Linked DNA regions of Homo sapiens. Each later gene encodes a partner of the first gene's protein in a complex. Each region holds a gene or a part of one and is shown on either strand. Other genes may lie near its edges.

The links.
Region 2: the proteins of STON2 (region 1) and EPS15 are in contact, whole or in part, in an NMR structure (PDB 2JXC), measured with the Homo sapiens proteins. Residues at the interface, in NP_001353779.1 of Homo sapiens: Trp309, Arg310, Ala311, Thr312, Asn313, Pro314, Phe315, Glu318, Gln321, Asp322, Gln324, Pro325, Ser326, Ile328, Asn329, Pro330, Phe331, Phe334, Phe335, Glu337, Gln338, Glu339, Arg340; in NP_001972.1 of Homo sapiens: Leu139, Gly148, Lys152, Pro153, Val154, Leu155, Leu156, Asn157, Ser158, Lys159, Val162, Asp163, Leu165, Gly166, Arg167, Trp169, Glu170, His176, Gly178, Met189, Val192, Tyr193, Leu196, Glu197, Lys198.

What each region holds. Positions count from the first base shown.
Region 1 is NC_000014.9:81,393,954-81,409,809, reverse strand, and holds the start of STON2 (stonin-2), read left to right. Parts: upstream 1-9,485; 5' UTR 9,486-9,531; exon of another isoform or gene 9,532-10,029; intron 10,030-11,229; 5' UTR 11,230-11,427; coding exon 11,428-11,515; intron 11,516-13,631; coding exon 13,632-13,916; intron 13,917-15,856. UniProt on the Homo sapiens protein: Adapter protein involved in endocytic machinery. Involved in the synaptic vesicle recycling. May facilitate clathrin-coated vesicle uncoating.
Region 2 is NC_000001.11:51,400,352-51,415,681, forward strand, and holds part of EPS15 (epidermal growth factor receptor substrate 15), read right to left. Parts: intron 9,346-15,330; coding exon 9,184-9,345; intron 7,982-9,183; coding exon 7,784-7,981; intron 5,758-7,783; coding exon 5,554-5,757; intron 3,182-5,553; coding exon 3,068-3,181; intron 2,175-3,067; coding exon 2,084-2,174; intron 603-2,083; coding exon 567-602; intron 1-566. UniProt on the Homo sapiens protein: Involved in cell growth regulation. May be involved in the regulation of mitogenic signals and control of cell proliferation. Involved in the internalization of ligand-inducible receptors of the receptor tyrosine kinase (RTK) type, in particular EGFR.

The DNA.
Region 1 (15,856 bases):
GGATGCTGGTGATGCAGTGAACACTGTCAGTTATACCTCATTTCTAGAAGGCAGAATGTGCTGTTGTGGAAAGAGTGCAGAATTTATAGAGTCAGGAGGTCTGTAATTCTGTCCCAATTCTGGGAGATGGTTAGCTCTGTGACCTTGATCTAGTCACAGAACCTCTCTGAGCCAGTTACTTTATCAAGTGGGAGAAATATTTGCTTTACTTATCTCAGGGTTACTGTAAAAGTGAATTGAAATAACCCATGAAGTTCTTTGCATTCTGGAACTATATACTAATTGTAATTTTTGGTAACTGGTAAAAAATAAGACAATTTCATTGATTCTAAGAAATATGTGTGTGTGTGTATAAATAAGTAAATATATATATATATATTTTTATATTTATTTTTATTTTTTTTTGAGATGGAGTCTCACTCTGTCACGCAGGCTAGAGTGCAGTAGTGCAGTCTCGGCTCACTGCAGCCTCCACCTCCTGGGTTCAAGCGATTCTCCTGCCTCAGCCTCCCGAGTAGCTGGAATTATGGGCGCACACCACTACGCCTGGCTAATTTTCGTATTTTTAGTAGAGACGAGGTTTCACCATGTTGGCCAGTCTGGTCAGAAAATCCTGATCTCAAGTGATCCTCCCTCCTCGGCCTTCCAAATTGTTAGGATTACAGGCGTGAGCCACTGTGCCCAGCCTTAAAAAATATTTTATCTTCTCTGAAATTAGATGAATTGTAAAATGCATCTAATTTATATATGGCTCTAAAATATAGATAAGAAATTATCCACATCAACTCCCTACTGTCACATAGACAAAATATTAGTATTCTCATTTCAAAAAAAATATGAAGTGGAGTTAAACCAAGATGAATGTACCAAGATGGAGTAAGTCAATGTCTTCTAAGAGTTCAAGGAACTGGAAAATGTTTTGCAAACTTTAAAGCCTGACCTCCTACCAGAGCCATTCACTAATGTGATACACTGCTCAGGTACGTGGGGATGTCAGTCAAGGTCACTGCCTCAGGAATGCACCAAAGATCAGAGGCAATGCCTAACCAGTTTTTCAAGCCAAGTGTAACTTAGATTCTTGACTCTGAATGTGGGGCCATGGAATTGTTAGATAGCAGAGCCATAGGGATTGTTGATTTTGAAGGAAAATCACACAGTAGAGTATTTTGTAATTATAACCTTGGGATATACATATATGTATGCATGTACATAAATGTGTATATTTATAAGTGTGTATACACACATATACACACACTCATACACACAAGTAATATGACTTTAGAGAAGGAAGCCACCTAGGGTTAGGAGATTATGCTGTGTGTGCTTGTAAGAGAAAAAGAAGAGGGAGTTCACTTATGGAGAATCATAGATAGATGCTAACTGTGGTCAAAGTATGACATTTGTTTCTTTTGGACTTCTTTCTCATACATGTTTGACTTGAGGCTGAGGTGTTCATTCTGTTCCCCAGTTTTCAATGGAAATTGGAAGAAGATTGGGTGGTCTCCTTTTGTTTTTTAAAATAAAATATTTAAATGAAAGAATGAAATTTTTAAACGTCGAAATAATAAGAGCAAACAACCAGGATTACTCAACTCATTTTCTCTTTTAGGAGCATCAAGGTACCTATTAATTAATGTGTGTGTGTGTGCGCGTGTGTGTGTGTGTGTGTGTGTTCTTCAGTGAACTCTGTTCAGGTTTTATTAATGAGAATTCAGGTCTCTCATCAAGGAAAAGAATGTGGAAGAGGAAAGGGAAGAGAAGCAGTATTCAAGTCCTTAATCTAATTTAGTCTTCCTCACAGGGTAATGGGGCCTTCCAGTCTTCTCTTTGTTCTAGCAACTTATGAAACAAGCAGCATGGTTATTTCAACTTCTGATTCAGCTTCTATGGCTCCTGTAGCCCACTGTGACACAGATATCAGTGTATGAAAGCTTGTTATTATCTTGTGTCGCTGTGCTATGCACAATTCTGAGTGCATAATAGATGCTCAATAAGGTAGCTGAATATCTTGCTTTAGAAGAACACTGTAAAGAAATATGTAGAATTTATGTAGTCTGTTTTTCCCATTCTTCCTTTCTTTGTAGCTTTTGATTTGACCTTTAGATGCTTGTCCTTATTCAAGAGAAAACTGAGGCCTTACTTGTGGGTTTGGAATGGACACCAGGATCTAGTTGAAGATGTTTCTGCATAAACTCCAAACAGATGACTGGACAGTGGTTGCCAATAGTCTCAAACCCAAAAAGTGGATGTGGCGATTTTCATAGACGCTACCTAGCTTAATACCTATGAAAAAGAGGTAGACAGGGAAGATGGCCAAAGATTTAACAACCTCTTTTGGATCACTAACCAGGCACAAGTAATGTTTTTGTATTATATAGCATAGCTAACCTAACAAAATAAATCATTTTCCCAGCTCTGGAGCAATGGAATTAATCTATATGGCTGAGTGAAACCTTCCTTTTATTCTCATATAATTTATAAAATTTCTGTAAAATTTCCAATTAATTTTCAGTACATTACTGTGAAATGACCTGTATTTAGATGTCTGAACTAGTCTCTTTTTAAAAGTGAACACAAGTCAGAAAGTAATGTTCCAGGGGAGGACTTCCAGTTCTGGTTATACTTGGTAACTAGCCCTTCTTCTGCAGCGAACAACCACAAAACAGCAACATCTATGAGGCAACTGTTTTCAGGCTTCGGTCAACAGGCAGCACAAGATTTTCTATCCTGAGGTGAGCCTGACACTCGCCTTGGCTCTTTTCCAGGGAAGAGTTTCGTGACTGCAGTGTGGTCAGCTGGAGTCTAAGCCAAGCACAGCAGTCATACTGAGCTAAGAAAACAGAGATCAGAGTTTGGGGCAATTGAAGCAGCTGGAATCTGCAGGACAGGGCACCAGAGAGCAGAGAGTTGGGGAGCAGAGAGCATGGGGATGGGGAGAGAGGAGCAGAAGTATGTCTGGGTGTACCCAGAGAACCGTTGGCCAGTTTAGAGTGCACAGGTGCACACTGAAACCATGCAGAGCTTAATAGAGTGGCTGCTGGAGGATTGAGAATGGGACAAAGATACTGGACATCAGGCAATAGTGGGGGACATTGGTGGTCCAGCCCAGCCACAGTGGAAAGAGCTCGTTAACGTCTTATTAACATCTCAAGCATCCAACCAAGTATGGAAAGCCTGTGTCTTAGGGGTAAGGATCATGTTCTCAAGGAGGGTCTGTAAATTTTTTTCTGTAAAGGGCCAGTAGTTATTATTATTGAGCAGTAATTATTTCAGTCCCTGTGAGCCATACAGTATCTGTCACAGCTACTCAACTCTGCTATTGTAGACCAAAAGCAGCCATAGACAATATGTAAACTAATGAGTGTGGCTGGTAAATATACTAATAATACAACTTTATTTACCAAAAAAGGCAGAGGGTCAGACTTAGGCTGTGGCTGTAGTTTGCCAGCCCATGCTCTAGAGTAAGATTTACTTTAAGCTACCCTAGCAAAGCCTAGAACCAAGCCCTGTGTGTTAGGGTTCTCTAAAGGGACAGAATTAATAGGATAGATGTATATATGAAGGGTAGTTTATTAAGGAGTATTGATCACAAGGTGAAGTCCCACAGTAGGCTGTCTTCAAGCTGAGGAGCAAGGAATCCAATCCGAGCCCCAAAACCTCAAAAGTAGGGAAGCCGACAGTGTGGCCTTCAGTCTGTGGTCAAAGGCCCAGGAGCCCCTGGCAAATCACTGGTGTAAGTCCAAGAGTCCAAAAGCTGAAGAAATTGGAGTCTGATGTTTGAGGGCAGGAAGCATCCAGCATGGGAGAAAGATGAAGGCCAGAAGACTCAGCAAGTCTGGTCATTCCACTTTCTTCTGCCTGCTTTATTCTAGCCACACTAGCTACTGATTAGATGGTACCCACCCAGATTGAGAGTGAGTCTGCCTCTCCCAGTCCACTGACTCAAATGTTAATCTCCTTTGGCAACACCCTTAAAGACATACCTGGGAACAATACTTTGCATCCTTCAGTCCAATCAAGTTGACGCTCAATATTAACCATCATACCCTGTCAAGATCTACAGGGGAGACAGAGTTTAGAAATTGAGTCCTATGGCAATTAGAGGGCCATGGGAAACAAATTAATCCAATGAAGTAAAAGACCAAGCTTTATACAAGCTCTAGGCGAGCAGCACTTGGTCAGACTGCCTGCTGGAACAAACATCAGCACTCTGCAGAGGAAAGTCAAATCCAGAAGGTCTTCAGTGTATCACCAACAATTATTAGGTATGCAAAAAAAAAAAAAAAACCTTAGGAAAGTAAAAACCTTAGGAAAATAAAAACCATAGTCAAGCAAAAAAAAAAAAAAAACAATAGTAACTAATCCCAAATGGTCTAGAGGTTGGATTTAGCAGGCAAAGTCTTTAAAGCAGCCGTTATAAATATGTTCAAAGAACTAAAGGAAAATATTGTCACAATGAGTGAATATATAAGGCATCACAGCAAAGAAATAGAAACTGTAAAATAACATTATAAAATGGAAAAGCTGAATAAGATACAAAATTCATGGGATAAGCTTATGGGAGAATGGAGATGAGAAGAGAAAGAGTCAGTGAACGCAAGGACAGATTAGCAGAAGAGATGGAAAAGGGGCAGAAAAACACATTTGAAGAAATACTGACTTAGTTTTTCCAAATTTAATGAAAAAATGGACATACAGATTCAAGAAACTCCACTAACTTCGAGTAAAATGAGTTCTAAGAAAACTACATCCAAATGCACTATAGTCAGTTGCTGAAAATGAAAGATAAAGAGAAAATATTGAAAGCCATTAGAGGAAAGAAGACACATTATATAAGCATGAGTAATTACATATAATCAACTGCTCATTAGAAACATTCAGACCAAAAGGCAAAATACTGAAGGAAAAATTCTCTGTCTTGTGAAAAGTAGCCTTCAAAATCAAGGATGAAATAAAAAATGGACTGCTTTAGAGCATTGCTGTCCAATAGGAATATACCATGAGGCCAGGTGCAGTAACTTGTGCCTGTAATCCCAGCACTTTGGGAGACTGAGGTGGGAGGATTGCTTGAGCCCAGGAGTTTGAGACCAGCCTGGGCAACAGAGTGAGACCCTGTCTCTACGGAAACATTTTTTAAAATTAGGTGGGTGTGATGGTGTGCACTTATAGACCCAGCTACTCAGGAGGCTGAGGTGGGAGGATCACATGGGCCTGCAGAGGTCAAGGCTGTAGTGAGCTGTGATAGTGCCCTGTACTCCAGCATGAGCAAGAGTGAGATCCTGTCTCAGTTAAAAAAGGAAGAAATATAGTGTGGGCTACTTATATATGATTTTAAATATTTTAGTAGTTTCATTTAAAAAAGTTGAAAGGAACTGGTGAAATTAATTTTAACAGTATGTTTTACTTAAGCTAATACATCCAGGATACCATTTTAACATGAAAGCAGTATAAAATTATTAGATATTTTACACCTTTTTATACTCTTTAAAGTCTGGTGTATATTTTACACTTAAGGAACAACTCATTCAGATTAACCACATATCAGTAGTCCCTATGTCTAGTGTCTGCTGTATTGGAATTGGATGATATAATTTTAGATCAAAGAGAAAGGGGAATGAACATATTTCCCTATATCTAGATTTTCTCCGAAGCTGTTTTACACATAGTGTTTAAATTAACCTTCCTAAAACATTTATTAACGTCTCAAAAGAGCTGAAGAGGCTACCTACTGTATGTTAAGGCAAATTCATTCATTCAGCTGGTTACCCAACAAGCATTTACTAAAAGCCATACCCTATTCTAAGAGTTAAAGACATCAATAAGCAAAAGATCAAGTCCCTTTCCTCATATAGCGACATTAGCAAATAATTTCATTATAATTTGGTAAATGAGTGTAAGTTAAGATAGTATCAGCATTCAGAAGATATGGGGGATAAAGGGCAAGTGGGAAGTGTGGTACTTTACTTATTGGAAGTTGAGGAGTACCACCATAGATCAGAGTTTTTGGTTGCAAGCAACAGAAATTAATTTTGGCTAATACAAGCAGGAAAGAAGTCTATTCAAGGGTATGAAAGAGCTCATTGGATTGCCAGATGACTCTCAAACGTGGCTTGGAAAATAGGTAGGAGCCATAGGACCTAGCCGGCAGTAAACAGAGACAGAGTCACACCATGGGTCTGGTTAGGATGCTGCACTTGTCACCATTGCCACGGAATTGAGTTGTGCCTGCTTCTGGGCTTGGGTCAAGTTTCCATTGTTCGCATGCCACTCTTGCATGTATTCAAGGCCCTTGTACCTTTTAGCATTCCCTCAATATTCTAGCAGCCGTTGACAAAGCCTGGATTAATTGCCAGGAGGGATGTAAAGATAATATTTTTTTTCTCGAAAAAGAAAGGAGTTTTGGGTGTTGAGTAGGCAAAAGACAATGAGCATGCATATTATAAAGGTTTTATGGCAAAATAATTTGTGTTCTTTATCTTTGCATTCAGTGATTGCCACTTGGCATAAATGCTTGTTGAGCCAAGCCTGAGATAATGATTGAGCTAAGACTTGAAGGTGAGCAGGAGCTCATGAAATAAAAATGTAGGGAAAATGTATCCCAAATATAGTATTTAATAATGTATTAATATATGAACAAGTGATCGAATAGGACAAAGTATATTAAAAAACACAGTCTTTCAAATAACTCAGTTCATCAGGAATATAGGATTCACAAGGGGAGAGAATGACACATGGGATTAGAGAGGTGGATCAGGGCCAGATTCACAAAGTGCCTGCATTTATACGACAATTTTTATTGAGCTGCTAACCTGTGCCAGGCACTATGCTCAATGCTGAGGGTATAGCATGCAACCCCTGCTCTCAGGAATCCTTTGTTCATTTCTCATACCTCATTTTATCCTGTGAGGAGACTTTGAGGAGCTGTAAGCAGAGCTGTAGCATAGCCATTTTCAGGTTTTAGGAAGATAACTCTACCATAATAGGCTGGATAGTAGGTTTGAGCAGGTGATACTGAAGGCAGGGAGACAGGTAGGAGACTTGCAACTGTCTGCGTGAGAGATCATGAGGGGCTGAGCCAAGGCATTGGCAGTGGGATTGGAGAGGGTAAGCTCCAGAGCTCAAACTCGTTCTGAAACTTAGAGCTCCTTTTCCAGGATGCTTGACACCCTCTTCAGATGAACAGAGTGTAACTCACTGTGGGCTAGACATACCATTCCTGCTCCCCCTTCCTGAGTGCCTGTGCCCCTCAGCTCTTTTGCTCAGACCCCTCCTTTCCGGCTTAGGGTACAGTTCAAGACCACCTATAGCTCAAGCTCTCAGAAGTCTCTTAACACTCTTACTTGCTGCTGTCCTACTTTTGGTGACTAACCACCAGAATAGGTTAGAGAGCAGAGGTTATTGTTTTAGGTTGCTGTGGTATCTCCCTGCAGTTGACAGCTGCTTGAGGGCAGAGATGCTGTTTTGTTCTCCCTTGACCCTCAGGCCCTAGAATGGGCAGAAACAGTACATGTTCCTGATGACTGTGCCCCCCAACTTTGTGAGACACACCGGAGGTACTGATGGCTGAAAAATTCCATCACCACGCTTCTGTCCAGCACTGTCTGAGGAAGGCTTATCTCCCTTAAGCACACTTCTTGAGTCACTCTCTGCTTTTAAACCTCCCACAGCTTCTCATTTCCCCTTGAACTCTCCTTAGCTTTTATGGTCAATCAATCCCTTCACTCCATATTCCCCCAGTAGATACCTCTGCTCTCATCAGACAGAGGCTTGTTCAGACAGAAACACACCTTGTTAAGGTCTGCTTCTGATTTTTACTGTCACTTGCGGTGATCCCCTGTCCAGAGGCTTCCCTCACTTGTCCCTCTGTTGGTCCAGAATCAAGGACATCCTTCACATCTCAGAAACCCACCCAGTCCCATATGGTTCCAACTCTCAGAGATCTCCCTACGGCTAAACTGTGGCAATTAGAGGACTGTCATAAGACAAAACTACTTCTATGACCCCCATCTTATCAGACAATTGCATTCTCCCTTCTACAAATTTTTGTATAATGCTGAGAAAGAAGTAGCTCTCTGAAATGGCAACTCCAAGACTTCAATGAAACTTTTAGCATCTGTTGGTCAATCCTCCTGCTGATACTGAGTCACCACTCATTTGTGGTGATTCTAAACCTCATTTTATGATTCACATTCTAAAAATGGGGTGAGGTTTTTACCAAGCAACTAATTCCAGTATGAACTTAACCTCACAATTATTGGGTTCTTCTGTGGGTTTCCAGCTGCTTAGCACAGCACTTTTCAAGGTCTGATTTCTTATGGCTTATTGGTGTGGCTCTTCCATGGCAAATACCTAAAATCCATTTTATGGATTTATGGTATGGAATATGATGGGGGGTTCCATGTGATCAATTTGTTCCACCAGTCTTCATTGGGACCACTCATTGTCTGTCACCAGCCCATGTCTGGTCTGGGACAAGTGAAGGAAGGATAGATAAAGTTTTGGGGCTCTTTTTTCGTTCATACGTTCTGAGGAATGGTCTTGGTACTTTGGCCAGAATGCACCTATATCTATAATGAAGAGGATTTAGAATCTGCCTTCTGGGCACTGTAGCTGAGCACATGACTCTACTTAGCATTTTGAACAATGACTGAAACCAGATTCTGCAAATGACAGAAATGCAGTGGTTTCATGAAATCTGCATTCCAGTCCCAAGACTTCTACGAACAAGTTACGCAACGTTGGGCGAGTCATTTAACAATAGCAGCAGTGCTGGCGATGGCTAACATTGGTTTGGAATGGAGCCTGGGGCACAGTAAGCCCTCTGTAAGGTCACCTGCTGTTTTCATTGTCATCGTTACAGAGGGTTTATTACATCCAGTCCTTAGTACTTGGCGTACATTATCTTGTTTAATCCTCGGAATTATGGAGTGAGTTTTATTATTCTTTCTGTACAAGGTTGAACTGAAGCTTAAAGAGGTTGAGTTATGAGTCCACGACTGTATAGGACTCCAAGACTGTATAGGACTCAAATCCGAACAACCTAACTCCTGGGCCTGTGATCACAATCTCTATTCGTGTGCCTGATTTCCTTGGGCCTCAGTTTTCTCATAACACCTGAAGTTGTTGATCTTTAAAACCTTTCAGTTTAAAATTTTTAAATATTTTCCTCTTACCTTCACCTTCGTCCCCTGTTCTCTTCCCTACCCCACTTATCCATGACTTTTGCTGGGTTCATCATTGCAGGATTGGCAGGATGTTTTCCCCATTGAGTGATGACACTGCATGTGTCAGCATAGGGACTTGTATTGTGGGTTTTTTTTTTTTTTTTTTTGACGGGTGCTGTGGGGCTGGTTTACATGCTGCTGTCGTTGAAAGAGGAGGAATCTGACTCTTCAATTTTACTGCCTTATCTTGGCCCGCAGCCATTACCACATTGAGTGACACACATTTGACAGGGCTTGAGAAAGTCGTCAAAGGCAGAAGCCAGTGGGAATCAGCTCTTTGTGCTTGTGGACCCTGCACTGCTCTCTGGTAAGATCTGGTTTGGGAGACCTGCTCTCTCCAGGCTGTTTGCCTATGTCTGGCCTTGTGGTTGGCAAGGATCCTAGGAGAGGGACTTGGAGAAGAGGCTTCTGGGCTTCCCATCCTTTATACAGCTTGGGGTGTGCTGGCAAACTTTCACATGGGGAGTTTCCCGGACATTTCATTACAGTTCCATTGTAATTGATATTTGTAAAGTACTTAAGTTGGGTGATAGTCTATATGTACTGTATTCTGTTGTACTTCTTTGCGGCTGTGACACCAGGGTTAGAGTGTTTTGGCTGCAGAAGACCTGGGCTCAAGGGTTGGATCTATCACTTAGTGTGGTGCTTCAAACACACCTGCTTGTTATGGCTTTTACTTGATTATTCTTTGGGTGAGATCTTATTATGAAGAAAAGTCAGCCACTGTGCTGAGATTTGTAAACTCTTCCACTTAGCCTGGAGGAAGCATTTTACCAAAAGGGCCTGGAAGCACTAAAAGTATTAGGTAAGTCACTTAATTTTTCTCAGCCCAAATTTCTTTATCCATAGAAGAATTAGAGTACTATGAGTCCTACTCATCAAAATGGCTACTGAATCAAGTGAAGTATGGTATGAAAATGTGTTTCTGAAAATTATAAATTCTATATAAACATTAGTTGTTTTTAGGAAGCATCATATGCCAAAACTGTTTTAAACACCAAAAAAGCAAAAGCTGTTCATGTTTTTACCGATTTTCCCACCTAGAGATTATTTACTGCAGATGATAACCTGTAGTAAAATTTCCTAAACTTTTCATTGTGCAGCAATTGGAAGACTGTGAGTTAAGTTGTTCTAGAAACTATCTGAATATTGTGTATATTTAGTTAATAAGAACTGATATTGTTCAAGGTATATAGTAGCTCTTCTATGGAAGCACATTAATTTTAGATAAATTCAGATTTTATTAATTCATTATAAATCATTATTAGATCAAGAGCTAGGTTCAGGTTGTAAAAAGATATTAATACCATGAACAAAATTATGTCAATTAAGAATCTTTCTGTATTCCTAGAACATAATTGCAGTGTGAGCAAAGGCTAGACCATTGTAACTAATTTAAATAGGCCTAGATTGAAAATGTTACTCTAACTCACATTTTTCACTACCACAGATGTTCCCTATCCTCTTACTCCAAATGAACAAGATCACTTCATTTCTATTTTTCTTGATTGATAAACCATGCTTGGAGATACCATCTGGAGATTGTTGGGTTTCTGCCAGAGATTTAAATCAGGTTTATAAAGAGTTACCTGCCTAAGGCAAGAAACTGGACTAATTTAATAGAAAAGAACATGCTTTTATTTTGCCAGCTAGTAAGAGAAAGTGAAAGCATTTTGAAAAGTTTTAATATTTGTTTAGCAATGATAGTATTATAGATGACAATATTTCTAAAATACAATAATTAGGGAAATTAGAGAATCTAATTGCTGAAATTTGTGTAATTATTTGCAAGTGTGATATGAAGGCTTATCTAGAAACCTTGATGCTAAAGACAGACATTTCAGTATAAAAGGTGAGGGCATGACAGGAACAGAGTGAAGTAAGGCAAGTTGGAAACCACCCCAAGCCTTCTTGTGGGCAGCGCTAAAAGCCCTAGACCTATGTGGATTCAGTGTAATGTGATGGTTATCCTTTTTAATTTTTTGTTTGTTTGTTTGTTAAACAGATTTCTGCCTGGCAGATTAACCAACGGCAAGAGAGGCTGATCTGTCTACATTCTGAGTACTGCCCTTGGCAAGACACCTAGAACAGACCCTGGACCCAAGTCTACCGTACTACCATACCCCTACTCCAGCCCACCCCAGACAGTATTCTGGGGTTCACCTGAGGTCAGCAGTGTGAAGATGACCAGTGCCTTTTTAGCATGACGACTTTGGACCATGTGATTGCCACCCACCAGTCAGAATGGGTCTCCTTCAATGAAGAGCCACCCTTTCCTGCCCACTCGCAGGGTAAGGAGTGCCTTCGTTTCCTAAAGTGAAGAGATTGTCAAAGAACCATGTCTATTTGTTATGGCTTCTACTTGATTATTCTTTGGGTGGGATCTTAATATAGAAAAAAGGGTCAGTTTCTCACTTTCTTTCTTGAGATCTTAGAATCCTAAGTGGAAGAATTTACACACTGAAAAAGCATCTTGGGAACCTTAGGGCCCTAAAAAGAGGCTTGGAAACACCAAAGGTAGTGGCTCTTTTCTCCCAAGAAACAAAAACTTAATATTTACCAAATACTTTACTCTCAGCCTTTTTAAAATGTAGTTATTAAAAGTAGTTGTTAAAAGTGACAGGCTCTGGAGCCAGAGTGCTTGGGTTCAAATCCCTGTTGCACCAGGGATGAGTGATATGCTTTTGGGTAGATTATTTATTTAACCTCTCCATGCATAGCTTCATTATCTGTACAGTAGGGATAATCAGTACCTATCTCACAGGTTGCTGTGAGGCTTAAGTGAATTCATACATAAAAGTGCTTAGAGCAGTGCCTGGCACGTGGAAAGAGCTCAGTACGGTCATCCTTGATCATAAGGAGGATGACTATATTGACTTTGGAGAACTTGTGCTCAGGGATGAAGGTCAAGGTAGGATCCAGGAGATATTTGCAGAGACATGTGAGTTGGTTCTGTTCTACTACAGCTACCAGTGCCAACTGAAGTCATCCCACCGTCATTTATAACACCTAGAAAGTGTGAGTCGACAGGTATGCTCTCCAATATGGTGGCCATGTGGTTACTGAGCCCCTGAAATGTGACAAGTCTGAATTGGGATGTGCTGTAAGCATCAGATACCTATGCTAAATTTCAAAGACCTAGTTTAAAAAAATTAAATAGCTAATAATTTTATATTTCTTACATGTTGAAATTATAAATTTTCAGCATTGGGTTGAAATGTGTATTATTAAAATACTTTCTCCTGTTGTGTTTAATTTTTTTCATGTGGCTACTAGAAAATTTAAAATTACATATGTAGCTCACATTTTATTTCTGTTTGACGTGCTGTAGAGGCTTTGAATACTTGCAGATGGACCGGTTGGCTAGTGATGGGAGAAAAGATTTTATATTAATTATTTGATTAAAAACCTTTATACAGAAAAATTGACTTCTTTTGTTGTACAGCTGATGAATTTCAGCACATGTATACATTTGTGTATCTACCACCATAATCAGGATATAGTTTTTTTGTTGTTGTTGTTGTTTTGAGACGGAGTTTCGCTCTTGTTGCCCAGGCTGGAGTGCAGTGGTGCAGTCTCAGCTCACTGCAACCTCCGCCTCCTGGATTCAAGCGATTCTCCTGCCTCAGCTTCCCAAGTAGCTGGGATTACAGGCATGTGCCACCATGCCCGGCTAATTTTGTATTTTTAGTAGAGATGGGGTTTTGCCATGTTGGTCAGGCTGGTCTCGAACCGCTGACCTCAGGTGATCCACTCACCTCGGCCTCCCAAAGTGTTGGGATTATAGGCATGAGCCACTGCGCCCGGCCAGGTTTTTTAATTTCCAAAAAAAAAATTTTTGAAGGCTGTTTAATTTTCTGGGGCCAATCAAGTGATACAGTGCTGCAGAAATAACCTCTAGGTTACATTCAGCTGGTCATTAGTGCACATGGGTTTGCACCTGGTGTCCTGTGGCTGTGTATAGCTTAGACTGCAAAGAATTTGAAATTTGAATTTGAATGTCTTCAGACAGAAGTGCTCTTGTTCAGCCACAGTCCCCACCAGTCCCTTTTGCCTTTCACTTGTCTCACTTGACTCAGGTATATTTCCTACTTGACCTCTGTAAGCACTTTCCTTTGTGACCCCCAAGCACTGGAGTAGATGCTGGCATAAGAATAGTGAAGAAGGCTCCTAGTCTCTGCCTGCCAGGATACTGACTGGAGACATGCTGAGCTTACAGCATTTACACATGATTAGGGAAACAGTCATTTAACATGCAGTCAGATGGGTGTGGCTCTTTCTTCTCCCCACTCACTGCAGTGGCGAGTCATGCGGGCACCCCATGGTCATCCTTAGTTTTTGCCTCCATGAGATGGCTCTGAAGAGCGGCCTTCCTCACATGATGGTGGCGTCTGGTATCTGTTTCAGGGGGCACGGAAGAGCACCTCCCAGGACTGTCATCTTCCCCAGACCAGTCCGAGAGCTCCTCCGGGGAGAACCATGTGGTGGATGGAGGCTCTCAAGACCATTCCCACTCGGAGCAGGATGACTCCTCTGAAAAGATGGGCCTCATCTCTGAAGCAGCTTCCCCACCTGGGAGCCCTGAGCAGCCCCCACCTGACCTGGCCTCGGCCATCAGCAACTGGGTTCAGTTTGAAGATGACACACCCTGGGCCAGCACATCTCCACCTCATCAGGAAACAGCTGAGACAGGTGAGGAGGTAGGAAGGGCCCGGCTTGGGTTTGTGGTCAGCAGGGATGCTTTTCAGTGAGAGGTCTATAGGGCTGCCAGGATTCCATTTCATCTGCCCCCTAACCCTGAAGCACTGGTCGCATAGGGGAGAGCAGACGGAGTTCTCATCTGGTTTAATTCTGTAACTTGTTTTTGTTGACATAAGCATACAAAAGAATGTATGTGTTCTAGGACATTTCTAGTCCTTTACTCTTGTCCCTGGCTGTTGACTTGTCTTTAAAATAATGCATATATATTTTTCTATTAGGGATTGGAATTATATTTACTCAGCCCCTAAACTGTAAGCACCTTACATACAGAAATGAATGTTTCTGCTGGGTGCGGTGGCTCATGCCTATAATTTCATCACTTTGAGAGGCCGAGAAGGGTGGCTCACTTGAGGTCAGGAGTTTGAGACCCACCTGGCTAACACGGAGAAACCCCGTCTCTGCCAAAAATACAAAAATTAGCTGGGCGTGGTCGTGCACTTCTGTAATCCCAGCCACTCAGGAGGCTGAGGCATGTGAATTGCTGAACCTGGGAGCGGAGGTTGCAGTAAGCTGAGGTCGCGCCACTGCACTCCAGGCTGGGTGACAGAGCTAGACTCTGTCTCCAAAAAATAAAAACAGAAATGAATGTGTGTTAAAGTGTGGACCACTGACCATGTCTAACCAAGTCACCAATAGGATTTGTTAAACATGGATATTCTCACACTTCAGAACTCTTGAATCCAAATCCTCATGGGTAGGGATGGTTGTTCATGAGAAATCTCTTATTTTGTGGCATTTCAATGGCCAGAAGCTGCACTGGGGAGCTTAGTAAAGCTGTAGGACTTGTTAGTCCCCATCCTGGTGACCTGGCTACTTCTTTATTGTGCACTGAAGTATGCCACAGGTGATTGGATAAGCTTTGGGACTGTATTAGTTTTCTATTTGCTGCTGTAACAAGTCACCACAAGTGTAGTGGCTTGAACAACATAAGTTTATCATCTTATGATTCTGTATTTCAGAAGTCCATCATGGGTGTCACCGGGTCAAAATCAAGGTGTTGGCAGGGCTGTGTTCCTTTCTGGAAGCTCTAGGGGAGAGTCTGTTTCCTGGCCCTTCCCAGCTTTCAGAGGCTGTCAACATTCCTTGGCATATGGCCCCTTCCTCTATCTCCAAAGCCAGGAATGTGGCATCTCTTTGTGCCTTTCTTCTGAAGTCACATCTTTCCCTGACATCTGCCTTTGTCTTCCATTAAGGACCTCTGTGGTTATGTTGGGCTCACCAGGCATTAAGGACCTCTGTGGTTACACTGGGCTCACCGGGATAATGTCCCCATCTCAAGGTCCTTAACATAATCACATCAGTAAAGTTCTTTTGCCATATAAAGTAACATATTCACAGGTTCTGGAAATCAAGATGTGGACATCTTGGGGTAGAATGGGAGGCATTCTGTCTACCACAGAGACCTACTAGCAAAAAGCAGGGTTGATATATTTTTCTGTTGGTGTGTTAAATGTTTTGCTAGTGTCACTTTTTAAGGCTGATTCCTTTGTTTTTCAGTGTGTTTTCAATACTAAAATGATTTTAAGAAAATATAAAACAATTCTGTAACAAACATTTATATTTTTACATAATAATTTGCACATTTATGTCTATTTTTTCATATTTGAACATCAGATTTCCTTTTTTTTTTGTTTGAGATGGAGTCTTGCTCTGTTGCCCAGGCTGGAGTGCAGTGGTGCAATCTCAGCTCACTGCAACCTCTGCCCCTGAGGTTCAAGCAATTCTCAGGTCTCAGCCTCCTGAGTAGCTGGGATTACAAGCACCCATCACCATGCCTGGCTAATTTTTGTATTTTTAGTAGAGACAGGATTTTGCCATGTTGGCCAGGCTGGTTTCGAACTCCTTGACCTCAGGTGATCCACCTGCCTTAG
Region 2 (15,330 bases), on another chromosome or scaffold:
ATAAATATTTAAAGCACCAAAGTCTAAACACTAATGTCATTTTTAAAAAAGTAAAGCTATCGGGCACAGTCGCTCACACCTGTCTGTAATCGCAGCACTTTGGGAGGCTGAGGCAGGAGGACTGCTTGAGCCCAGGAGTTCGAGACCAACCTCGGCAACACAGTGAGACCCTGTCTCTACAAAAAATAAAAAAAAATCAGTCAAGTATGCTGGCATGAGCCTGTAGACCTAGGTACTCAGGAGGCTGAGGCAGGAGGATTGCTTGAGCCCAGGAAGTCAAGGCTGCAGTGAGCCATGATCACACCACTGCATTCCAGCCTGGGTGACAGAATAAGACCCTGTCTCAAAAACAAAAAACACCAAAAAAAAAAAAAAAAAAAAAAAGAAGAAGTAAAAGTAAAGCAACAATTCATTAAGCAAAATCAAAAGAATTTACTACTCTCTTTCTGAAAATGCCAGGCACATAGAGCATCTTACTGGGGCTTCAGTTTCAGACCTAAATAACATAAGCTTATTATTAAGCAGAAATGAATGAAAGCTAAGATGAAACTCAATAAGATACTGACCGATTTTTCCAAAAGGATCATCCTTGAAAGGATCACCTGTGATAAAATAAACACAAAGAAATCCAAATAACAATATTTACTGTGGTGACACCACTACTTAAAGAGTAACTTTCAAACAAAAGCAAAGCAAAGTTTATTTCAATAACTTCACTTCACAGTAGATAAAATAAGGAATGTCATTGACCTTATGAAATATACAGCCAACTATACTTACCTTGATCACAAGTTGAGGTTACGGATGGAGGGGAAGACATTACAGCAAAAATTTTACTAACAAAATCTCTACTCTCCACAAGAGTACTGGGAGGGTATTATCATCACCAGTTCAGAAATAAAGGTACTGAGCTTTACTGAAGCAAAAAAAAAAAAATTCTTACAGGATTGAAGAGTCCAGAAATAAATCCTTACCTTTATGGTCATTTGATTTTTGACAAGCGTATCAAGAACACAAAATGGAGAAAGGACAGTCTTTTCAACAAATGGTGTTAGGACAACTGGATATCCACTTGCAAAAGAATGAAGCTCGACCTCTATCTCACATCATATACAAAAATAAACTCAAAATGGATCAAAGATCTAACTGTAACAGCAAAACTATAAAACTCTTAGACAAAGACAGCATTAAATCTTTGCGACTTAGGTAATAGTTTCTTAGATGACACCAAAAGCACAAGTGACAGAAGAAAAAATAGATAACTGGACTTCACCAAAATTGAATAAACACTTTTCCAAAGAAGATACACAAATGGCTAATAAGCATCTAGAAAGATGTTCAACATTAGTCAGTAGGAAAATACAAAGCAGGCCAGGCGCAGTGGCTCACACCTGTAATCCCAGCACTTTAGAAGGCCGAGGCAGGCGGATCACCTTACATCAGGAGTTCAAGACCAGCCTGGTCAAAATGGTGAAACCCAGTCTCTACTAAAAATACAAAAATTAGGCCAGACGCGGTGGCTCACGCCTGTAATCCCAGCACTTTGGGAGGCCAACGTGGGCGGATCACGAGGTCAAGAGATGGAGACCATCCTGGCCAACATGGTGAAACCCCGCCTCTACTAAAAACACAAAAGTTAGCTGGGTGTGGTGGCAGGCACCTGCAATCCCAACTACTCAGGAGGCTGAGGCAGGAGATTAGCTTGAATCCGGGAGGCAGAAGTTGCAGTGAGCCGAGATTGTGCCACTGCACTCCAGCCTGGCGACAGAGCGAGACTCCATTTCTAAATAAATTAATTACATAAATAAATAAATACACACATACATACATACATACATACATAAAATTAGCTGGGTGTGGTGGTGGGCGCCTGTAGTCTCAGCTACTCAAGAGGCTGAGACAGGAGAATCGCTTGAACCCAGGAGGCGGAGGTTGCAGTGAGCCGAGATCGTGCCACTGCACTCCAGCCTGGGCGACAGACTGAGTTGGTAGGCTATTGAAACTGAAGCCTTGAATCCTTAGTTTATATATTAAAAAGTCTTTTTTTTGGGTAAATCTATAATATAAAAAAAAGAGTACTTACTGCCAACAAAAGGATCAGACTGGAAAAAATCCAAGTTTGTATCTGCAACTGGACCTGTCAGCGAACTTGAGTCTACATTAAATGGATCTTCCTAAAAATAATTTTAAATTAAAATTATTTTTTAGAAACCAAAGTTTTAAAAGGTAACATTTTAAAATAAAATAACACACATTCAGGTCATACACATGCTTTGAAAAATCAACTGATGGGCCAGGCACGGTGGCTCACACCTGTAATCCCAGCACTTTGGGAGGCTGACGTGGGCAGATCACAAGGTCAAGAGATAGAGACCATCCTGGCCAAAATGGTGAAACCCCGTCTCTACCAAAAACACAAAAATTAGCTGGGCATGTGCAGCTACTCAGGAGGCTGAGGCAGGAGAATTGCTTGAACCTGGGAGGTGGAGGTTGCAGTGAGCCAAGATCACACTACTGCACTCAAGGCTGGGTGACAGAGTGAGACTTGGTCTTGAAAACAAAAGGAAAATCAACTGATGGTAATGTAACAAATATCTCTCTAGTCATAAAGCACCTTTAACACATTTTTCTCTTTCCTTCACCTTAACATATTTTTCTCTTTCCTTCACCTAAAATAGTGTATAATTCATCTGAGGAAAACAGTGATAAGGACATTTTTTTAAAATATCATTTAATTTTTAGAGATTAGGTCCCTCTATGTTGCCTAGTGCCTCCAACTCAGGCTCAAGCAATCCACCTACTTCACCTCCTGAGTAGCTGGGACTACAGGCACTTGCCACCACATCCAGCTATTAAGAACATTTATTTATTTTATATGTATAAATTCAAGGGGCACAAGTGGAATTTTGTTACATGGCTATATTGCCTAAAGGTGAAGTCGGGGCTTTTGATGTATCTATCATCTGAATAATGTATATTGTACCCATTAAGTAATGTCTGATAATTCACCTCCTCCTGTCCTTCCACCCTTACAAGTCCCCAATGTAAATATAAAATCATTTTTTACCTCTTTTGAATGTCTATTATTGTCGAGTTCAGAACAAACTTTTTCAGTAACAGCTGTAGTCACCTCATTTTCATCAGTCACACCAGAAGGCAGTAGTTCAGGACTACTTCTTGCCTACAAAATATTAATGCAAGTAGATTAACAATATACTTTTTGACATGGCAGAGAAAACTGACTAAAGATAACCAAAAACTATTTAAAAATAAAAAAAGACAAGCAGAATGTATTCATCAAATAACTTCTCCTTCTATAATCTTTTTTAGGGAAATGGTGTCATCAAGCATCAAAGTCACTCATGTCAGAAACCTTCAGGTCATCTTTAATCCTCAGAATATGACTCCAAGTCTTGCTCAGTCTACCTCTTACCTCTTTTTCAAATCCTTGCCTTCTTCTCCATCCTCACTGTCACTATCAATCACTTATAGTACTATCATCTTTGGTTCCAATTACTATAGCAGTCTTCCTTCCAACTGCTTTCCTGCCTCCAATACATGTATTTCCAATCTCTTCTCCTTATTGTAGCCAAACTAATAGCTCTAAAATGTGGATGTGATCGTGACCCTTCTGGTTAAAAGTCCTTCAATGGCTTCCCATTGTCTTCTTCATTTAGACGAGTGGGTGAAAGACTTAAGAAGTAGTAGGGGCAGGCCGGATGCAGTGGCTCACACCTGTAATCCCAGCACTTTGGGAGGCCGAGGCAGGCAGATCACAAGGTCAGGAGATCGAGACCTTCCTGGCTAACACGGTGAAACCCCGTCTCTACTAAAAATGCAAAAAATTAGCCAGGTGTGGTGGCACACGCCTGTAGTCCCAGCTACTCGGGAGGCTGAGGCAGGAGAATAGCTTAAACCCGGGAGGCTGAGGCAGGAGAATAGCTTGAACCCAGGAGGCAGAGGTTGCAGTGAGCTGAGATTGCGCCACTGCACTCCAGCCTGGGCAACAGAGCGAGACTCCGTCTCAAAAAAAAAAAAAAAAGTAGCAGGGCAATAGCTACTTTATACCACCCTTATCTATTTGCAGGATAACCTAGTAATCTGCCTTTTGCGCTTGAAAGAATATTTTATAATGCATACATGACTGCACTGTGTAAATAAAATCGAGTCTGTTAACTTTTCACTTTTAATACCTCTCAAACTTCTATTCTTCTCATTATCCCTTCTACGGGTACAGTCTCACTCTCTAATCCGTTTTCCACATTTCTAAAAGTTAATCACGTCACTTCTTGCTTAAAATTCTTCAATGGCTGTTCATTGCAGTAGGATAAATCCCCCAATGCTTTAAGATGAATCTAAATTTCTCATCTTCTGGCACTTTCTGACCTAAAATTGGTCATTTTTATCCAGGTGCACATGACAATCACCCATAGAGTGTGTTTTTAAAATATACATATCTGGCTCTATCCCAGAAACTAGTTCAGCAAGTTTGGGGAAAGGGATACACATTTATACTTTGACAATCACCAGAGGTAATGCAGATGCCTACTAGAAGCGCCTCATCTCTTACCAATACCCTCTCCACCATCACAAGATATCCTTCAGAACTTCTCAAGATTCTGTGCTGCATGTATTCTTCCACCTTGTACCTATACTAATACTGTTTTCTCTGGCAGGAATGTATCCTCCTCTTCTTTGCTTAACCACTTCTCACTTGTCTAAACTCGCAAAGCTTTCCCCAACAAAATCTTTATGAACCCCCTCCAAACTGTCCTAACTGAAAATTCTGCGCTTCCTTTAGCACAGCCCTTTAACACAGTGTTACACTACTACACTGTAGGCTGCTTGAAGGAAAGACTGAGGTCTCTTGTCTCTGTAGCTCTTATATTATGTAATACAGCACTCTTGCACATAGTTGGTACTCGTCAAATAATTGGTAAATGAATGTCCTTAACACTACGTAATAAAAATAATTTTAGCTTTTGGTGAGGGTACTTAAAAAAAAAGTTTTACTCTATAGAACCACCATTTTAAAAACAGGCTCTACAAAAAATAAATTAGCTGGCTGGGCGTGGTGGCTCACGCCTGTAATCCCTGCACTTTGGGAGGCCGAGGCAGATGGGTCACTTGAGGTCAGGAGTTCGAAACCAGCCTGGCCAACATGATGAAACCCCATCTCTACTAAAAATACAAAAAATTAGCTGAGTGTGGTGGCACGTGACTGTAATCCCAGCTACTCAGGAGGCTGAGGCAGGAGAATTGCTTGAACCCAGGAGACGGAGGTTGCAGTAAGCCAAGATCGCACCACTGCACTCCAGCCTGGGCAACAAGAGCAAAACTCCATCTCCAAAAAAAAAAAAATTAGCTAAAGTTATCTTTTTATACTAGTTAAAACGTACAATTGTTTGGATTAGGACTCTCTGCTTCTAAAAAGGAAATCTCAATTGTCCTCAGATGAGGCAAGGCCATGTATTTATATTAGATATAATGTCAGTGAAACTTGGATCTGCACAAGGAGGTTGATTATGAAGGTTATGAAAGTATTAGACTCACTGGAGATTCCTGGTGTATGGGCTCAGACTCTAGGTTGCTCTGGCCTTCAACATGTTCATTAAGGTTGGCTGTTTCACTGCTGCTGGTGCTGAGGCTGCAATAATCTGTAGCTCCGTTTACAAGAATGCTGTGTGGGCTACTGCACCAATTTAACTGACTATTATGATTTTCCAAATCTTTCATTTCCATCAGTTTCATTTGCATCTGCCAACACAAAGAAGAAATATAGAACAGAATTTATTACTAGAAAGACATGTAACATAAAAACGCCCTCCTCCACTTCCTGACGGGCTAGGTGTGGTAGCTCATGCCTATAATCTCAACACTTTGGGAAACTGAGGCAGGAGGACTGCTTCAGCCCAGGAGTTCAAGACCAGCCTGAGCAACACGGTGAAACCTCATTTCTACAAGAAATATAAAAATTAGCTGGGCATGATGGAGTGCACCTGTAGTCCCAGCTACTCAGAAGGCTGAGATGGGAGGATCACTTGAGCCCAGAGGTCAAGGCTGCAGTGAGCCATGATCACACCACTGCACTCGAGTGACAGAATGAGACCCTGTCTCAAAAAAATAAATAAAATAAAAATGGCTATACCTGTAGACTTGGTCTAGGATACATTTGCTTCCTTTAAGAAGAATCCTCTGGGAATGCTACGTGACTTAGAGAAAAGATTCAGTAATTTCTGACAATAAGTATTTCTCTCTTGAAATTTTAGTATACATGGATTTTTTTTTTAAAGAGATTCAAAAAAAGAAAATACTTTAAAGAATACCCATTCATCTGGTAGCATTCTCACTACAACAACTCTTTCAGGTTACCTGTTTATTGAGTACCTACACTGGGACAAGAACTGTGCTAAATGATACGGATTTTTAAAAATGTGTAAGTTCCCAGACCAAAACCATGACTCTGCTAGGGGAGACAGACATATAAGCAAATATGCAGGGAAAAATCTTATTATTGCTGTAACATAAATACAAAGTCCAACAAAAGCAGGATGCAGAAAATACCATAAAGAAATAAGAATTTAAGGTATATCTTGCATGACGAATGAGTAGGTAGGTACTCAGCTGCCAGATAACAGGGGGTAAGGAAGCGCAAAAGTGAAGGACTTCATTATATGTAATAACTGAGCACACTGGACTGGGTTTTAGAAGAACTGGATTTTAGATGTAGCTCTTTTCAAGGATATGTAACCTTGAGAAAGTTACTTGAACTTCCTTGGCTTTAGTTTGTTCAAATTCATAATGAAAGAAATCAACTCCATGATCTCTGTGTTTCTATCCTTTTTTTTTTAGTTTTTATTTTTTGAGACAGATTCTCACTCTGTTGCCCAGGGTGGAGTGCAGTGGTGTGATCTGAGCTCACTGCAACCTCTGCCTCCCAGGCTCAAGTGATTCTCGTGCCTCAGCCTCCCAAGTAGCTGGAATTACAGGCAGGTACCACCATGCCCAGTTAATTTTTGTACCTTTTAGTAGAAACAGAGTTTGGCCATGTTGGCAGGGCTGGTCTCGAACTCCCGGCCTCAAGTGATCCATTGCCTCAGCCTCCCAAAGTGCTGGGATTACAGGCATGGGCCACCACCATGCCGAGCCCTAACTATCTTATCATTCATTAAAACATTAGTCTTCATGTAGGGAAACCTGGAAATAAAGCAAAGGATCTATACATAAGACCAACTATAACACTGCAAATTTATCTACAGAAGGAACAATTTCCTTAAGAAAAAAGTTTCCAAATTAGCAAATGTGAATTCAAAATTAGAATCACAAAACAGAAGAAACTAGGTTATTGTTTATAAAACAGGCAACACTTATGGAGCATTTATGTACCAAGCACCATGCTAAAATGTCTTACAGGTTTTGCCTCATTAATCCTCACAGTGGCCCTAAGGGGTAGGGTATTTATTAATCCTCCAATTTTGAAGATGAAGAATCTGATACTAAGGTGATTTAGCTAGTAAGTGGCACACCAGTACTTAAACCTAGACCATCTAGCCACAAAGCCCACACTCTTAATCACTACTCCAATGATAATCATCAGATAGATATACAAGATGTATGATAGTTTCAATATATAACAGGTGACAAAAAAACCTATTGTATAAAATGACTGAAAAATGAACAGTAAACTAGGCAAGAGGTTGAAGGAGCAGAAGTTGGAAAGTATAACTGACTAAAGGACACAGAGGATCCATTTGAATATATTTCTTGCTTTACAAAGACTTACTGAACTAATTTCCTGTTGTGAATCTTGTAGGTGCTGCTGAAGAGGTTCCAACTGAGCCTTCCCTGACTCTACACTCTCCTCCAATTCTGCTGTTTCTTGCTGTAGACGGCTCAGCTCTTCTCTAGCTTTTGCCAATTCTTCTTCGTAAGTGGAGATCTGCGATTCCTGACTAGTTAATTCAGCTTTCAGAGAAGAGATCTATAATGTGAAAGTGAATGAGAAGAAATGGGGATTAAAAGAAGAGATGTCATTAAAATGTTCCAAAATGCAATACATTTATTTGTTTAGTTTACTATTTTGGTGTTTTTTTTGACAGCAATAGCAAATAATTTATTTAATTTAATTTTTGAGAGAGAGAGTCTTGCTATGTTGCCCAGGCTGGATTCAAACTCCTGGGCTCAAGTGATCCTCCTGAGTAGCTGGGACTATAGGAACATGCCCAGCCATACCTAGCCCTATTATGGAGTTTTTGATGTTGTTGTTGTTGTTGATGTTTTATTTTTTTGAGACAGTCTCACTCTGTCACCCAGGCTGGAGTGCAATGGCACGATCACAGCTCACTTCAGACTTCAGGCTCAACTTTCCCAGGCTCAGGTGATCCTCTCACCTCAGCCTCTCGAGTAGGTGGGATTACAGATGTGGGCCACCACGCCTGGCTTTCAATTTTTTTTTTTTTTTTTTTTGAGACAGAGTCTCGCTCTGTTGCCCAGGCTGGAGTGCAGTGGCGTGATCTCAGCTCACTGCAAGCTCCGCCTCCTGGGTTCACACCATTCTCCTGGCTCAGCCTGCCGAGTAGCTGGGACTACAGGCACCCGCCACCGCCCTGGCTAATTTTTTGTATTTTTAGTAGAGACGGGGTTTCACCGTGGTCTCGATCTCCTGACTTCGTGATCCGCCTGCCTCGGCCTCCCAAAGTGCTGGGATTAAAGGCGTGAGCCACTGCACCCAACCAGCTTTCATATTTTTTGTAGAGATGGGATTTCTCCATGTTTCCCAGGCTGGTCTCCAACTCCTGGGCTCCAGCAATTCCCCCCGCCTCAGACTCCCAAAGTGTTGGGATTACAGGTGTGAGCCACTGTGCCCAGCCAATTATGATGTTTTTTGATGTATGGTTTTCGTAAAGAAGGGTAACTGGGGGAGGGACAGAGGAGAGTTGAAGGTATAGGCACCATATTTCCAACAAAAATTTGGAAAAACAGTTCATTAACTGCCCTTCTATTTCCTCTAAAGAAGGCCTGTAATTTCTGGATGAACCTTGCTCCATCGCCCCCATGAACCCAAATGCTGACTGGATTGCCAACCACCACCATCAATAACAAAAAGTAGAGAATGTTTTCATCTTAAGCCAGGAAAAGCAACTAATGTATAGGTGCAGGCAGCAGGAAACAGCCAGACATTACCAGTTGGGCCTCCTCAGCACATTTCTTTCTGACTTCCTTGAGTTGCTCCTCCAGCTGGGCTTTCTGCTCATCCAGTTCATCAAGGAGTTCCTGTACCTGCTGTTTCTGGGCCTGTAGTTTTTGCAGATTAGTATTCTCCCTTTGAACTTCATCTTGAAGATCCTAAAATCCAAGAAAATTAATATATTTATTTTCTTTGCGGGCAGGGGAGGGTTAAGTTAGTAATTTTAAATCTACCTTAAGAAAGAATAAAGTCTTACTGAGTATACTGTGTTGATGAGACTAGGGTACTTAACAGCTTTAAATACAATCTTTACTTGAAGACATCTTTCCTAGAATCCATATTTAGATATTCAATTTGCTAACTCAAATCTGTCCTTGGACATGTGATGGGCTTTGCTAACATGTTGAAAATAGAACTCCTGGAATTTCCCCACAAATCTGTTTTAAGCTCAATCTTTCCCCTCTCAGATTCTCTGGTCAAAAAAAAACCCCACATGGAGAAACCCTGTCTCTAACAAAAATGCAAAAAAAAAAAAAAAAATTTAGCTGGGCGTGGTGGCGCATGCCTGTAATCCCAGCTACTCGGGAGGCTAAAGCAGGAGAATTGCTTGAACCCAGGAGGTGGAGGTTGCAGCGAGCCGAGATCATGCATTGCACTCCAGCCTGGGCAACAAGAGTGAAACTCCATCTCAAAAAAAAAAAAATTAGCTGGACGTGGTAGTACGTGCCTGTGGTCCCAGTTACTTGGGAGGCTGAGATGGGAGGATCTCTTGAGCCCAGGAGGTCAAGGCTGCAGTGAGCTGTGATCATGCCACAGCATGCCCAGACTGGGCAACAGAGTGAGACACTGTCTCCAAAAAAAAAAAAAAGAAAAATTAATTCCAGGTAAATAATGGACCTGAATGTAAAAGTCTAACTTTAAAATGTGTAGAAGAAATGCAGATCTCAGTGTAGGAAAAGATTTCTTAAAACAAAAAAAGAACCATTTTGAAAATGTTATTTATTCATCCATGTACATACCAGACCTCATGCTTAATAACAAGAACTACAGAAATTTTTAAAAAGCCAGGCGCAGTGGCTCAGGGATTAATAACTCCGAAGTATCTGTCAGCAGGAGGTAGGCAAAGATTTCAAAGCGGGTGAGGTAAAACTGAACACAAATTTCTAAAAATAATATCTATTCAAAGGTCCCAACAGTCATTCACCAGAATAAGAATCTAAGAACAGAAGAGAAACTTACAGGTAAAAGGTCTCTGAATTACTGCATAGGTTACACAAGATAGCACCATTATGATAATAGCCAACACTTTAAATGCTACTTAAAATGTGCTAGGTTGTGCTCTAGGCTCTTTAAATATACTAACTTATTTATAGTCTATATGACAGATCTACGAGTTAGGTACTGATATCATTTCATATTTTACAGATGAGAAAACTGAAGTACTGATGTGTAGGTAATGTGTCCAAAGTTAAAAATAGTAAGCTATGGATTCAAAGTGGGTTCTGACTCCACAGCCTGAGCTCTTAACCACCATGTGACATACCATCTGCAGACTAAATGTCTCACATGTGTCACTATTTTTCAAATATATGCAGATGTTTCTGTGATTAAATAGAACACTGAACAATGCTTTCAATAATTGCTTTTTATCTTATATTTTCTTAACCAACTGGTTAGTCTAAAAATATCATGTTGCTTTCTTTAAAAAATTCCTTTAAAGCCCAGGCAGAGCAGGCAGACAAAAAGGGAAACTCAAAGGCAGTAGCCTTTGAATTCCTCAATGATACTTGAGGAATTCGGACAATGTTTGATGAGTATCATCAACTCTGCAAAGAAAGGCAAAAAGTGACCCTTGTGCCATGAATTGCTAACTCTTGCACAAAGGACTGATAAATGGAACTGTACAGAGAATTTAAGATACAGGGACACTTGATTTCTGGAAGAAAAACAATTTCTGTATTTTAATTCAGTCCTTATTTTAAGAGACTTGAAATTATAATATTGAAGGAGAAGAAATTTTAAATGAGGAAATAAGTACATTTTAAATCTTAGTTAAATATGCTTATGCCCCTTCTAAATTGAATTTTTCTTTATTGTATTATATAGAGTTTTGCTTTGCCTAGGTTTCTTAAGAATCAGATGTTCTCTCATTAACCCGTCAGGAAACAACAGAAGCTGGAGAGGATGTGGAGAAACAGGAACGCTTTTACACTGTTAGTGGGAGTGTAAATTAGTTCAACCATTGTGGAAGACAGTCTGGCGATTCCTCAAGGATCTAGAACCAGAAATACCATTTGACCCAGCAATCCCATTACTGGGTATATACCCAAAGGATTATAAATCATTCCACTATAAAGACACATGCACACGTATGTTTATTGCAGCACTATTCACAATAGCAAAGACTTGGAACCAATGCAAATGCCCACCAACGATAGACTAGATAAAGAAAATGTGGCACATACATCCCATGGAATACTATGCAGCCATAAAAAAGAATGAGCTCATGTCCTTTGCAGGGACATGGATGAAGCTGGAAACCATCATTCTCAGCAAACTACCACAGGAACAGAAAACCAAACACCACATGTTCTCACTCATAAGTGGGAGCTGAACAATGAGAACGCATGGACACAAGGGAGGGGAACATCACACACCGGGGCCTGTCGGGAGGTGGGGGACAAGGGGAGGCAGAGCATTAGGACAAATACCTAATACATGCAGAGCTTAAAACCTAGATGATGGGTTGATGGGTGCAGCCAACCACCATGGCACATGTATACCTATGTAACAAACCTGTACGTTCCACACATGTATCCCAGAACTTAAAGTATAATAATAATAAAAAAGAATTAGATGTTCTCTTTCTGATTCCTTTGACAAAAATGTTTATCAATTATTTACTATAATTTATTTTAAAAATTCCTTTAAAAATGCCAACACAATAGATGATCATGAAAGACTTTCCAGTGCTAACATTCCGTGAGTTTGTGTGATCACAGTTTCAAACTGGTGAACTCCTTTAGTACTTTATCATTAATTTACCAGCATGCCTAATTTTTTTCATGTCTAAATTTTTAACCTTGCCTACACTGTTAACTAATCCATACCATATAGAGATACGACTTTAGATATGCACATGGCATTGGCTCTGAATAAACCCATGCCAAAAGAGAAAAATGACTTCAATTTCTGTATCACCCAGTCTAGTAACTTCAGATTCATCTTTGATTTTCTCCATTCATACATGTCCTATAGATTCTACCTTAAAATCTCTCTTTAAGCTGTTTACCAAATTATTTTAGCTTTCATCGTTCCTTCCTTGACATACAACTGGGTTTTCTCCCTTTGTTTCTTCCTATTCCAAATGTCCAACTTGCTTAAAAAATAACTCACTGCAAAGGATATTTCTCTAGTCACTGTTATTTTTAAAATATGTGTTGTTCCCTCTTATCTAGAGGATTAAGTAAAACTTGCTGCAAGACACATTAAAACCTTCAGTTCTGGGTTCTACCTTCTTTTCCTCTCATATTCACCTGTGTCCCAGCCTCAGAAGACCCTATTCCTTCTCCAATAGACAACATATTTCAATGACCCTATGCCTTTCCACAAGCCATAACCTCTGTCTTCAATGTCCTTCCACACCATATGTACCTGGAAACCCACTATTGATTCTTCAGAATCCAGCCAAATTTAATCTCGTCTGACTCATCTTGGGCTTCCTTCACCTATGCTCAAACTCTACTGTTTGTTCCTAACCTCTACTGTCATACTTAATACACTGTAATCATAGCTAACCTCTAAATTACAAACTTCTAAAGGACAGTGTCCATGCTTCATCTTTCTTTGATTATCCAAAATCTTGTACAATGCCTAGCACATTCCAGGGGCTTAATTAAGCAATTACTGTAACTATCATAGGATTTTAGTATGTGGGAAAAACTAATGGGAAACACGCATGAGACTGACAGAAAGAAAAGACTTACATTCTTTTTACATAATGTGAAACACTTCACTATGTATTTAAACTATAGCTATTTATTAATACCCCAAACTGACCTATGACAAATGCTTTTTAAACTTTTTAAAATAATACCTACATTTCTAAACTGATTCAGTATTTTTATAATCTATAGACCAAGGCTGATCTGACATTTAAAACTTTCATTATTTGGAAATAATCATTACTGCTTTAACATGTCACTGTGGCATATACCTTTATTTTTTTAAGACAGGATCTTACTCTGTCACCCAGGCTAGAATGCAGTGGTATAATCACGGCTCACTGTAGCTTCAACCTCCTGGGCTCAAGTAATCTTCCCACCTCAGCCTCCCAAGTAGCTGAGGCTACAGGCATGTGCCACCACGCCTGGCTAATTTTTAAATTTTTTTGTAGAGATGGGGTTTTACCATGTTGCCCAGGGTGGTCTCAAACTCCTAGGCTCAAATGATCTGCCCGCCTCGGCCTCCCAAAATGCTGGGATTACAAACATGAGCCACAGTGCTTGGTCTAGTTCAGCTATAAAATATTTTAAAAGAATGTTACCTGCAGATCTAAAGTAATTTTGTTAGTTTGAAAATACAATCTATTGAGCCGGCAAAGTGGCTCATGCCTGTAATCCCAGCACTTTGGGAGGCTGAGACGGGTGGATGACCTGAGGTCAGGAGTTCGAGACCAGCCTGGCCAACATAGTAAAACCCCATCTCTATTAAAAATACAAAAAATCAGCTGGGCGTGGTAGTGGCCGCCTGTAATTCCCGCTACTAGGGAGACTGAGGCAGGAGGATCACTTGAACCCAGGAGGCAGAAGTTGCAGCAGTGAGCCAAGATGGCGCCACTGCACTCCAGCCTGGGCAACAAGAGTGAAACTCCATCTCAAAAAAAAAAAGAAAAAAGAAAATATAATCTATTTTGAATTCCTTACTTTGTTCATAAAATTATTATATAGGTTTATATAACAATATGCTGGTCCCAAAAGCATGTTTTAAATCCTAGAGGGAAAAAAGTTTTTTCTCTTTCCCTTTAACTAAAAATGTTCAAGAGTGGGAATAGGAAAAATATGTTATCTATCCCCATTAGTAAATACTCTAGTCATATTCCCCACCCTCCCTCATACCCCAAAGAAAAATATTCTTTATCTACTTCATGTCTCTAATAATATCTTTAAAGCCAGATGTAATTTTGATGTCTTTTATTGTAAATCCAGGGACAAAAAACACAATTTACCTTAAAAGGGTCACACAATATAAGAAAATGTCTAGGACATGATACTAAGTTTTAAAAGCTGAATACAGAGGCATATACAGTATGATCACAAATTAATATAAAGAAATTTATACATATTTGTAGAAAATACAGCAAAATGTTAACAATAGCTCTCTCTAGAAAGGCTTTTTACATCTTTTTCATACTTTTCTTCATTTTACAAATTTACCATGAACCCATGTTACTTTTATAATCAGAAAATGTCAAGTTTGCTGTTTTTTTTAAGTATCACATTGCTACCAATATAAAATATAAAAATACCAATACAAAAATATTCTGATGTGACTAAATTTTTATGTAAGAACTACCAATAATAGAATCAATGCTGGTTTCCTTTAATAAACTGAACTATTTTTCATAAATAATATTTTTAGTGAGCCACTTAAACACAACCTCAAAAGACAGGCTTATGTAAGAGGAAGACAAATAAACAAACCAATATAATATTTACTTCTTTCTGCCCTTTCTCTCCCAAAGAGCAAACACATTCATTCAAATTTCCCAGACTCACTGCCCTTTTTCATTTCTTAGCTTCAGTAAAAATCCACATAGTAATACAAAACTACAGGACTTAAAGGAAAGGTTACTGAGGAAATACCTAACATTAATGAGAAACTTCAAGCTGGAACGATGTCCATATTAAAATTCATTATAATTAATGTCTCTCTATGTCTATTTCTAAATATGAAAAAAGGTCTATAAAAATTCTGGGCCAGGCGTGGTGGCTCACGCCTGTAATCTCAGCACTTTGGGAGGCTGAGGCTGGAAGATCACCTGAGGTCAGAAGTTCGAGACCAGCCTGGCCAACATGGAAAAACCCCGTCTCTACTAAAAATAAAAAATTAGCCAGGCGTGGTGGCGGATGCCTGTAATCCCA